3 linked regions of the Homo sapiens genome follow. The protein of the gene in region 3 interacts with the protein of the main gene of each other region in a pairwise test. Each region holds a gene or a part of one and is shown on either strand. Other genes may lie near its edges.

Region 1 (2,891 bases), on a different chromosome or scaffold from region 3:
ACAATCTACTTTTTCTGCTTTTGGCCTCTACAATTGAGAGCGATGGTCCTGTCATCAGATGGGACCGATACTCCTATTAACCCACAGCTTGGGACCTTACCTAGAAAAAAGGTAAGTGTCTACAGGTAAAATTAGGACTTTTATTAAATAGGGTGATCTGCCTGATCCCTGCTATTAGCAGCAGTAAGTTAGGAAAACAAATGACAGTGAAAATGTTTGCCTAAGGAAAGCAGCAGAGCACCCCTCAATCCTTCACTGACCTACTTGTATCAGCTCCCGTTTTCAGAATCAAGTTTAACAAATGGCTACGTCTATAAGGAGCTTGAAGGGACTGGGGATACACCAGGGAGGTGAGTTAGTTAGAAAGGCAGATTCCCCAGTTTTGGTTTTTGTCTAATTTTTCAGCTGAGCCCCAGCGTAATCTGCAAACTTAACAGTGATAATGAGACCACCTTTTAGTTTTCTTTAACACAAGGTAAAAAAAGAAGAGGGTCATTTCATGGGGAAGTAGCAATACAGGTATTTTATTTCACATTTTATTAGTAGACAGATGGGCAGAAAAAGACAAAATAAACCACTAAAGGGGAAGTCAACACAAAATCCGTCAGATAATCTTTTCTCATAAGTTAAACTGAAGCAAAACATCTACAATTTCAGCTAAAACTATTAAAGTCAGGTGTGTCCTGCTGGTTTCAGAATAGTTGAAAATTGCATCTGAATCCTTTTAGTTGTAAATGTAAACCTTGTTTGTTTTATCAGGATGGGAGGGGTGGAGAGTTCCTTTCCAGTGGAGAGCTGCACATTTCCCCTTCCAATCAGTTTCTTACAACATGTGCCCCAAACGTAAGGAAACCAGCAAGTAAAGAAGCAATTTGCCAGGGTAAGGGAAAGAAGGTTCTACAAAAAAGTTTGACTAATAGAAAATAACTCTGGAATGATTGATAAAAGGAGAAGGGGGGAAGACTGAAAGAATCAACAGCAGAATCATATACTTCTCCACCCAGCCTCAAAATACACAGAACTGAAGAGCATCTAGTGAGGCCTCAATTAGAACTAAAAGGAATCTAAAAATGCAGGATTTTGAGTTCATGTCACATCAAATAATAAGCAAAACTGTACGTACATGGTTCCGGATTGAGCCTGAGACCTCCACTCCCAGAAGGGGGAAAAAAAATTACAAACTCAAGTATTTTCCACAGGGATGTGTTCTCAGGGACAGAGCTCTGGAACCAGCCTCTGGGTTTCGTTCAGTCAGTCTAAAATACCAGAATGTCCACCTGCTAGCAAGAGACTTACCCAGTCTTCTGGAACTGATTGTACTCATCAGAGGCAAACCCAGCCCTTGACACTTTTAACACCCCAAAGGGCTGAAAGGTACAACCTCCACTTGGCGCTCCGGCTCCCTGAGTCAATGTCTAACAGAGGCCAATAGGGCCTGATGGAACAGCTGTGCAGCAGAGCACCTCCCGCAATGCCAGGGTGCTGGGGCTGCCCTGGGAGTGAGATGCTTTAGCAAAGGGGAATGAAAGGCTTAATTTTAGGGCTCCAAGAGAATAAGACCAAGCTACTGGCTGTAAACTTGCATGGGGGTTTGGGGGCATTTTGGGGGAGGTAAATCAGCACTGTGAGAGGCTTTGGCTCCACAAGATTTGCAGGTTAATCTGGAAGCATTACTTACAAAGTATGGGGAGTAAAAAGGTAGTTCCAACATCTATGAGAGTTTGTAATCAGGTAACTTGACAATGTATTACGAAGCTGCTCTGTTCCATGGATCTGACTAAAATCACTAGATTCTGGGTGCAAGTAGCAACCCTGGCCCTGTGGAGATCACAGATTCTGGGACCAGGCTCAACAGTGTCCCCTAAGAGCCTTGCTTGTTAAACAGTCCCATTTCATACCAGACCAAACTTTAGAGGCTGGGAAGGGCTGCTGGGACCAAACTTTAGAGGCCGGGAAGGGCTGCTGGGAAGAAGTCATGTGTTTGGGAGTTTGAAGAGTGAAAACCCTGAGATCAGAATGGAAGGAGGAGCTAAGGAAGTAAGCGTCACCTACTCTGGCCATCCTAGGATCCCTCCTGCCCCGTCCCTAATCTGCCCTTTGGTTCTTTCTGAGTTACGAGCCAAAGGAGGAGTTGACACTAGTGCCCAGGGGTCTGAAATAGGACTACAGTCAGTCCTTGCTGCATTTTCCTTCTGAAATCTGATTTTACATTATAGCGGTTTCCTCCAAATAATGCCCTCCTATGATCTGGTGCACCCCCATAACAACCAAAAATTACCTTCAAGTTCTGAAGTCTCCTGGATGGTGAAGGCTGCTGGATCTCAATATTGATTGAAGCAACACGATTGAGATCTGGAAAATCAAAGCTGCAGCAAGTGCATTGCAGGAAGATCTAGCCTTATCTGGCCTAAAAACTGCCTGCAGTCAACTCCCTCAGCCCTGCCACAATTTCTATGCATAATTCTGCTTGCACTCCACAGCCTAAGTATGTTGAAAGGAGAAAAAAAGTTCAGATCACATCCAATGAAGAAGGCGGTAACTCGTCTCACACACATCCAAGTTTTTCACTATCAGTATAAGCAGCTCGATGAAAACCGAAATCTTAACACATGCACCTAGGATTAATACTGAGTAATTAAAAGTGGCTACTTAAAAAACAAAAACAAAACGTCATGGTACGAGTGTATTTTTGATGGGAAGGCCATGCTAAATCTATAAAACAGATGTTTCCTCTCCCAACAGTGGTCACCAGTAGTTTCAACTTTTTCCCCCCAGTAGCATCAACCAAACTTAGCATAGTGATTTTTAACTCTTTGCTCCCACACGCACTCATCCCAACTTCCCCGCTTGCCCCACTCCCTGGGGGGAAATAACCCTGCCTTTAAAATAAA
Region 2 (3,651 bases), 8.5 Mb from region 3:
CCCAGCCTGATTTTTCTTGCTTTATGGATTGCCTGTCCCCGCCCCCACCAACTCCCCAACCTCCAGTCAATCTGGATGCTTATAGTATTTTCTTTTTCTCTTTTCCATTCAAAAGTGCTGTCAGATGTATTTAGGGGACACTGTCTCGTCTCACCCCTTTTCATAACCTGTGAGCCGGGCAAGGCACCATTGCATAGGTGAGGGCTTGGAGGCTGGAGAGATGAGGGACTGGGACTCAAACCACATTTCGGGATTTGGGGACATCTCCTGGCTGTGCCCTGAGGCCACCCCGACTCTGGCATGTGAGGCAAACCTGCTGTACAACGAAGGGGTCTGGACGAGGGAGTCTCACCAGGGGTGTTCAAATCCCAGCTCTGCCGGTCACTAAGGGAGGGACTGTAAGTGTGTGGCCTCCTGTCAGAGCCCAGGTCCCCGCTTGTGGGATAAGGAGCATTGTCCCCGGCAGGAGGGCTGTTGTGAGGATCCAGTGTGGTCATCCCTGGCACTCAGGAATCCTTCCTGTTGGTTCCCGTCCTCTCTCAGGAATGACAGTCGCCTCCTCTTTCCCCCAAATCCACAGATTGTTCTGTCAAGTGATGGGCCTGGGTGCCCTCACCTCCACCCCCTCAGCCACAGACACCACAGTCCAAACAGACTCCCGGAAGATATGGCCCAGACCACTTGCAGGGAAAGTCCCTGCGGCTGTACTCATCCTCATGGAAAACATGAGGACTGGCGGGGACTGGAGGGCAGGGAGTGAGGGGACATGCAGGGTGCCCCCGTCACAGGGCAGAGGGCTCTGACTGGGGCTTTTGGATCACCGCCCACCATGGGGAGGCCCAGGCAAGGGACTCATGCTCCTACCCATCTCTCCAGCCCCAGCTCCTCCTTCCCCTCCTGTCCCCTCCCTGCCCCACTGGTCTCCCCTGGCCCTGCCTGAGCATCTTTGGGAGTTCCCACCTCTCGACCTTTGCTTATGTAGGGAGGCAGGATGCGATGGGAAGACCCAGGCCAGGCTCCAGGGCCAGCCCAGTCTCTAGCTAGCTCTGTCTCCCCTCTAGGGACCATTTCCTCAACTGTCAAGTGGAGACACAATGCCTACTTGGCAGGTTTGTCGGGGGGGATACTTGTGATTGTTTTGGGGGGCCAAGGGTGCCCTGGGGCTCAGGCATATGTCAATGGCACTGGGCAGTCTCCCCTACCCTTTCTCTCCACTGTGCACCCTCCCTTACTTAGGGAGACCCTCTACTTTACCTAGGTCTAGGTCCTCCAACTTGAAACCTGCCCACAATGACACATCAAACATTGTAGGTGTGTCATAAGCTGGTGTGAGGACATGCAGGCAGCAAAGAAGCAACTTGTGTGTGTACACGTGTGTGTGTGTGTGTGTGTGTGTGTGTGTGTGTGTGTTTGGGTCGGTCCAGACAGAGGCCCAGGAAGAAGAAGAGTGGAGATCCTGCCACATGGCTCCTGATGCTGGAGGCTTAGGGACAAACCATCAGTGTGACTGTCCCAGTGTCCTCTGGGGATGGGACTTGGGGTTACAGATTCAGAGAGCTGTGTTAGAACCACTTGGGTCTCTGCCTGTCTCTCCCACCAGGCTCTCAGCTCCTTGTGGGGAAAGATCTCTGAGCTGAGGGGAGCCCTGAGCAGTCTCTCAGTAAGTGGTTAGGGGAGGAAGGAATAAACCAGCTTCCTGAGTCTAGGCACAGTCTGGGTACTTTCATACACAGTCCTATTGTGTTGGCACAGCAGTAGTCTTTATCACACAGGTGAGAAAGGAGAGGTTCGGAGAGGTCAGTGACCTGTCCTGGGTTACTCAGCAAGTAATTGGCCTAGTAACCTAACCCAGGACTGTTGAACAATCGGGCCAGTTGGTGCCAATTTCTAAATATTGACTATTAAAAAAATACTGGTGGCGAAATAGCTAGCACATCTGTGAGCCTGTTTGGGTTGTGGGCTCAGACCGAACTCCTATAAAGCATATGAAGCAGAGATGGTAGAATCCCAGGCAGGGGCCATGGAATGGGGGAGGGGGCGTTAACTCCTGCTATCCTACCTTTCTATAGGTGAGGCGCCTGCTGTTCAGAGACACAGGAGCATCAGCAAAACCCATCAAAGAACTGGGGGCCAGGGTAGAAAGGAGACCTTTCTGGGGGTGCTGATGGAAACTCCTACCCAGGCAAATCTTGTTTCCCAGGCATTCCCCCAGTGAAGACTGCACTGCTGTGCCCAACTTTGGCTGCAGGCTACTCTTTACCACCCAAGTGAGCCGCCACCCACTGATCTCTGCCATCAACTTATTCTAATTCTCTGCATAGCACATAGCACTTCCTGGGATTGCCCTTCTCCTGTCTGCTCTTCAAAGAGCCATCCTTAGATGGCCTACTGACATTAATGCTTTTTACCTTTCTAACTTGTCATTTTGTTTTTGTAATTCTTTTCTTTCTTCTACTTTTTTGGATCATTATTATCTAGTTTATTGAATTGAACAGTTTTTTTTTGCAATCTTTTTGGTTTAATAATTTAAAAATTTAAAGGCATGACTCATCCCCTGACTATGGCTTTGGCTGCATCCCATAAGTTTGGTAAGCAGTGTTCTTATAGTTAGTTGTTTCTCAAATATCTATAATTTCAGTTTTGATGATCTGTCTCTTTGATGTAACAGTGTTTTCTAAAATTTTCAAGTAGTTTATTTCTATTCAAGTTTGTTTTGCTTTTTATATTTAAATTTTTGCAAAGAGATATGCATCCTCATGGTAACATTTCAGAGTGCGAAAAAGAATACAGTGAGGGGTAGGTCTCCCTCCAGATTCTGTCCCTGCCTGTTGCCTCAAGAGACAGCCAGGCTCACTGGTGTCTCCTGTTGCTTTCCAGACATCTTCTGAGCTTTCAGGAGCAGATGTGCACATATCCATGTATAAGGACGCCTGCAGAAGCACCCTAAATGCACCGCCGGCTGTGTCCTCACCTCTTTGCATTTAACAATCTGTCGACCCACCTTGCTTTTCAATAGCCTCACAGTATTTCAGAGTAGGACTGCCCTGTAATGCACCGGCCTTCGCAGGGAGTTCCCAGTTTTCGTAGGTAGTTTGCAATTCTACTACTATTTATAGCTGAAGGAACCGAAGGATCCCAGAGACCACATCTCTTGCCCTAGGTCACACAGCAGGGGAGGAATGGGGTGGGATTCAATCCCTGTGCCTGGCTTCCGAAAAAGGAGGAGCGGGAGGAGGAGGGAGAAGGGAAGTGGGTGGAGAGAGGAATCATCTTCACAGAGTCCATCTCCCCAATGTGCTACAGTTCATTTGAGGAGTCCCCCCAGGTTTTCACTACTTTTGGCTATCACAAATGATCAGCACAGATCCCTCATCTGCAGGCCCTGGCCCACGTGTGAGCACACCTGTAGCAGGTGTGCAGACCCTCTCCTGCCTCCCCTGACCTGTTCTTGTGTTCTAGCCATTGCTTTCTGGATCTTTCTGTTCAAAGAAGACCAAGAGGTCCTTCTCTCACCTCTCACTTTGCTAACCGGCCAGTGGGCTCCAGAGTGGGGGTGATGTACCCCAGGTGCAGCAGCGCATGCACAAGGTGCAATCTCCGAGGCTCCGGGAGAACCCCAGAGAGCCTCCCTCTGTGGTCAGGGAGTGACCC
Region 3 (3,651 bases):
GCCAGGGGAGCGTGAGGAGCAGCCCAGGACAGGGCCCAGAGTGGGTGGGCAGAGGTGGCCGGAAGGTCTTGCGCATCTGGGTGAGTGGACGGCCACTGGGTGACCAAGAGGGCCGGGCCTGGGAGGGTGGCTTAAAACCACAGTGCACCGGGGGCTCCGGGCTCTCCGTTCTACAGTGCCCAGACCAGGACCCCCTGCAGGGAGGAGGGGCATCCCAAGGACAGCCTCTCAGGATGCTCCTGGCAGCCTGGTGCTGGAGGTGCAGAAGAAGAAACTGAGGCCCAGGCAGGATGAGTGACTGGGCCAAGGTCTGCTGGTGAGGGCCCGGGCTGGGGACATGCAGATCAGAACCCTGGCTTACACCTGTCAGGCTGCCTCCTGGAAGGAGCCCACTGGCCCCCTGGGGCAGTTGGACAGGTGGAGGGCTGAGGGGCGGTGCGGGGAGTAGGGGCTGGACTGCCGGAAACACCAGGCTTGGTCGTGGACCAGGCTGGGGAGTGGGCCTGAGACCTCAAGGGCAGGTGCTCCAGGACACTCTCCCAAGGCAGGAGGGGAGGAATAGAGCCTCCTGGGGAGGCAGGCGCTTGGGTGCTCGACCCCGCTCAGCTCCCGTGACCTCAAATGCCCTTCAGCCTGGGGTCCCCTGACTTACCGGGTTGGGCAGCACTTGAAGCAAAGCCATGTGGGACCTCCAGTCACAGCCCAGCCGTGCCCAGGTGTGGGACTGTGGGCACAGACCCAGCTTCTCTAGGACCCAGCCGCCTCCAGTTCCCCACCTGTTGTGGGAGGTATAAAGTGCCTGCCTTGGAGGTGGTGGGAAGCCGAGGGCCAGGGTGGAGAGTGCTGGGCCGGGGTGGAGGCTCAGAGCGTGTCCCTGCCAGGCCCGGCCCCCTAGCTCCCTCCCCGAGGCTCCACGCTGCTGTTCTCAGACGCTAAATATAAGATCTAAGCCATACATGGTTGCAGGAGGGCCTGGGATGCCCCTGACCTTCGAGGCCAGTTCCCAGGGTCTGTGGTTGGGGACAGCGGCTGGGGGGATGTGGTGGCGTGGAGCTGATGTCAGAGGTGCAACCCGCCTGTCCTGCTGTTCTGTTTTGGGGAAAGGCACGTGTTGGGGCTCTTCTGGGCTGGGCCTGTTACCTACCCGGGTGTTCCCAGGGCTGGAGTCAGACCTGTTGCGACTGAATCCTGGTAAAACCCTGAGTGCCAAGGGTTTCCGTCTTCCTGTTGGTGTGGGCCCCCTACCCACATGCAGACGGGCAGACTGAGGCCCAGGGGAGACCTGGGAGTCGCCCCTCCTCCCCAGCCACGCTGCTGACGCTGTGGGCACCCCAGGCATGCCTGAGGTTTGGAATCTCCCTGTCCATATTGTCCACTGGGGCGGGGGAAGTGCCCTGGGGTGAGATAAGGCAGCCTCAGATGCGCCGTTTTGTCGCATCATTACCGTGGGTAATGTTCCAGCCAGGGGAGCCTCCCGCTCCCCCGAGTCCTCCCCAAGCTCATCCGGTCCCGTCACTCTGCAGGGGCCGTGCTGGCCTCGTGCTGCAGGTTTCTGAGCCGGCTCCTCCCCTCCCAGCCCTGAGCCTCGGGGTCCTCATGCGCGCAGTAGGGCCCTTCCTGCCTGCCGCCTCGGTTGCTGAAATTCGGTCAGGGATGGGTACAGGGAAGCCTAAGATATAGTGGGGGACACAGTGCTACCCCTAACCCTCAGCATGGCACGTGAGCAGGAATTGCAGCAGAGAAACTGAGACCGAGGGAAGTGGCCCCGCCTGCGCTGGTGGCCAGGAGGACAGCCCCCATCCCCTCCCCGCTGACGGCTCCCTGCCCTCTGCCTGCAGCTCGGCAAGATGTCGGTGAAGGAGGGCGCACAGCGCAAGTGGGCAGCGCTGAAGGAGAAGCTGGGGCCACAGGATTCGGACCCCACGGAGGCCAACCTGGAGAGCGCGGACCCCGAGCTGTGCATCCGGCTGCTCCAGATGCCCTCTGTGGTCAACTACTCCGGCCTGCGCAAGCGCCTGGAGGGCAGCGACGGCGGCTGGATGGTGCAGTTCCTGGAGCAGAGCGGCCTGGACCTGCTGCTGGAGGCGCTGGCGCGGCTGTCGGGCCGCGGCGTTGCACGTATCTCCGACGCCCTGCTGCAGCTCACCTGCGTCAGCTGCGTGCGCGCCGTCATGAACTCGCGGCAGGGCATCGAGTACATCCTCAGCAACCAGGGCTACGTGCGCCAGCTCTCCCAGGGTGAGCCGCAGTGTGGGAGGGCCGCCCAGGCGGACGCTGGGGACCTGGTATGAGGCTTCAGGCCCAAAAGGCCCCGGGAGGCCTGGGGAACCACCAGGAGGAAGCGCAGCCAGGCAGGCAAGGAGGGCTTCCTGGAGGAGGACTGGCTTCCTGGGCTCAGGAAAAACATCCACATTCACTCCGAGTCTGAGGCTTCCAGGTCACCCCAGTCCCCGCACTGCTGCACCAGCGGTCCCCCTGTGCCCCTCTCTGTTGTGTGGCTCTGCCCCACCCTTCCTCCCCGTCCTGTGCTGGCTCCCACCCTCTGGGCTCTCTGCCCTCGTCCACACCTCGGCGGCAGGAGTCACTGAGTCAGAGATGCGAATCCACCCGAGTGGCTCCCTACATACACCTGCCTAGCTCCAAGCCCTTCAGCCTCAGCCCAGACAGAGCCCTTGAGGTCTGGCCCACACCTACTGATGGTGTCACCCTCCACCTCCCAGCGCCTTCCCTAGCGCCTCCCTCCCCGCCCTGTCCCCTACTCCAGCACCCAGGGGACTCGTTCCCGGCAGGCAGGCAGGCCCTTGGTCTCTGCCTCTGCTCGTGTTTTCTGCCTTTGCGTCCTCCAAGGTCCTGCGCCGCTAAGCCTTTAAGCCCCAGCTCACTTTCCTGTCCTCCAGGAAGTCTCCCCAGGCTGTGCCCAAAGTTAGTCCCGGTCCCTTGAGAGAAACCCTTGCTGTGCCACTCCATGGCTGCTGCCAGGTCCTACCGATGCTTGGGGACGAGCTAGGGTGGGCAGTGATGGGCGGGGCTGGGCCCATGGGGGCGGCAGTTACCTGTGCAGGCAAGCAAGCCAGAGGCGCCTCGTTTCTGTCGGACCCAGGGGACAGAGGCAGGTGTAGGGGCCAGCCATTCTCAGCCCGTCTCCCCAGCCTGGGCCTGGCAGGGCCCCTCTATGGAGTCTTTTGTGAATTGTTCTCAGCAGGGTCAGATGAGAGACACCCCCAGAACTTTCACAGCTCCAGATGGGGTGGGAGGCAGGGGTTCATAGGAATGAGGTTGTGTCTGCCATAAACACAGTAAGTGCTGCATTGGGAGAAAAGCTGGGCCCAGAGCCAGTGACAGGATGGGGCAGCTGCCTCCAAGCCCTTCCCTGCAGGGTCTGGCCCTGTGGTCCAGGAGCAGGGCCAGGACACCGAGGAGTGGGGCACCTCGTTGGGTCCCAGCCCACTGCTGTGGGCCACAGACAAGTGCCCGGCACCCCCTGGCGTCTGCCTGCCAGGCCCAGAGCCCCAGCCCTGAGCCCAGCTGCACAGGCATGGGAAGGGGTGCATTGGCCCTGCTGAGCCTGCCCACTCCACCCTGGCAGCCCTGGACACATCCAACGTGATGGTGAAGAAGCAGGTGTTTGAGCTACTGGCTGCCCTGTGCATC

The links.
Region 1: the proteins of INF2 (region 3) and UBE2R2 interact in a two-hybrid assay, tested with the Homo sapiens proteins (one large-scale study listed by BioGRID and IntAct).
Region 2: the proteins of INF2 (region 3) and BDKRB2 interact in a two-hybrid assay, tested with the Homo sapiens proteins (one large-scale study listed by BioGRID and IntAct).

The regions. Positions count from the first base shown.
Region 1 is NC_000009.12:33,918,009-33,920,899, reverse strand, and holds the end of UBE2R2 (ubiquitin-conjugating enzyme E2 R2), read right to left. Parts: 3' UTR 501-2,891; downstream 1-500. UniProt on the Homo sapiens protein: E2 ubiquitin-conjugating enzyme that accepts ubiquitin from an E1 ubiquitin-activating protein, and catalyzes its covalent attachment to other proteins by an E3 ubiquitin-protein ligase complex.
Region 2 is NC_000014.9:96,211,255-96,214,905, reverse strand, and holds part of BDKRB2 (B2 bradykinin receptor), read right to left. Parts: intron 1-3,651. UniProt on the Homo sapiens protein: Receptor for bradykinin. It is associated with G proteins that activate a phosphatidylinositol-calcium second messenger system.
Region 3 is NC_000014.9:104,699,519-104,703,169, forward strand, and holds part of INF2 (inverted formin-2), read left to right. Parts: intron 1-1,838; 5' UTR 1,839-1,847; coding exon 1,848-2,238; intron 2,239-3,586; coding exon 3,587-3,651.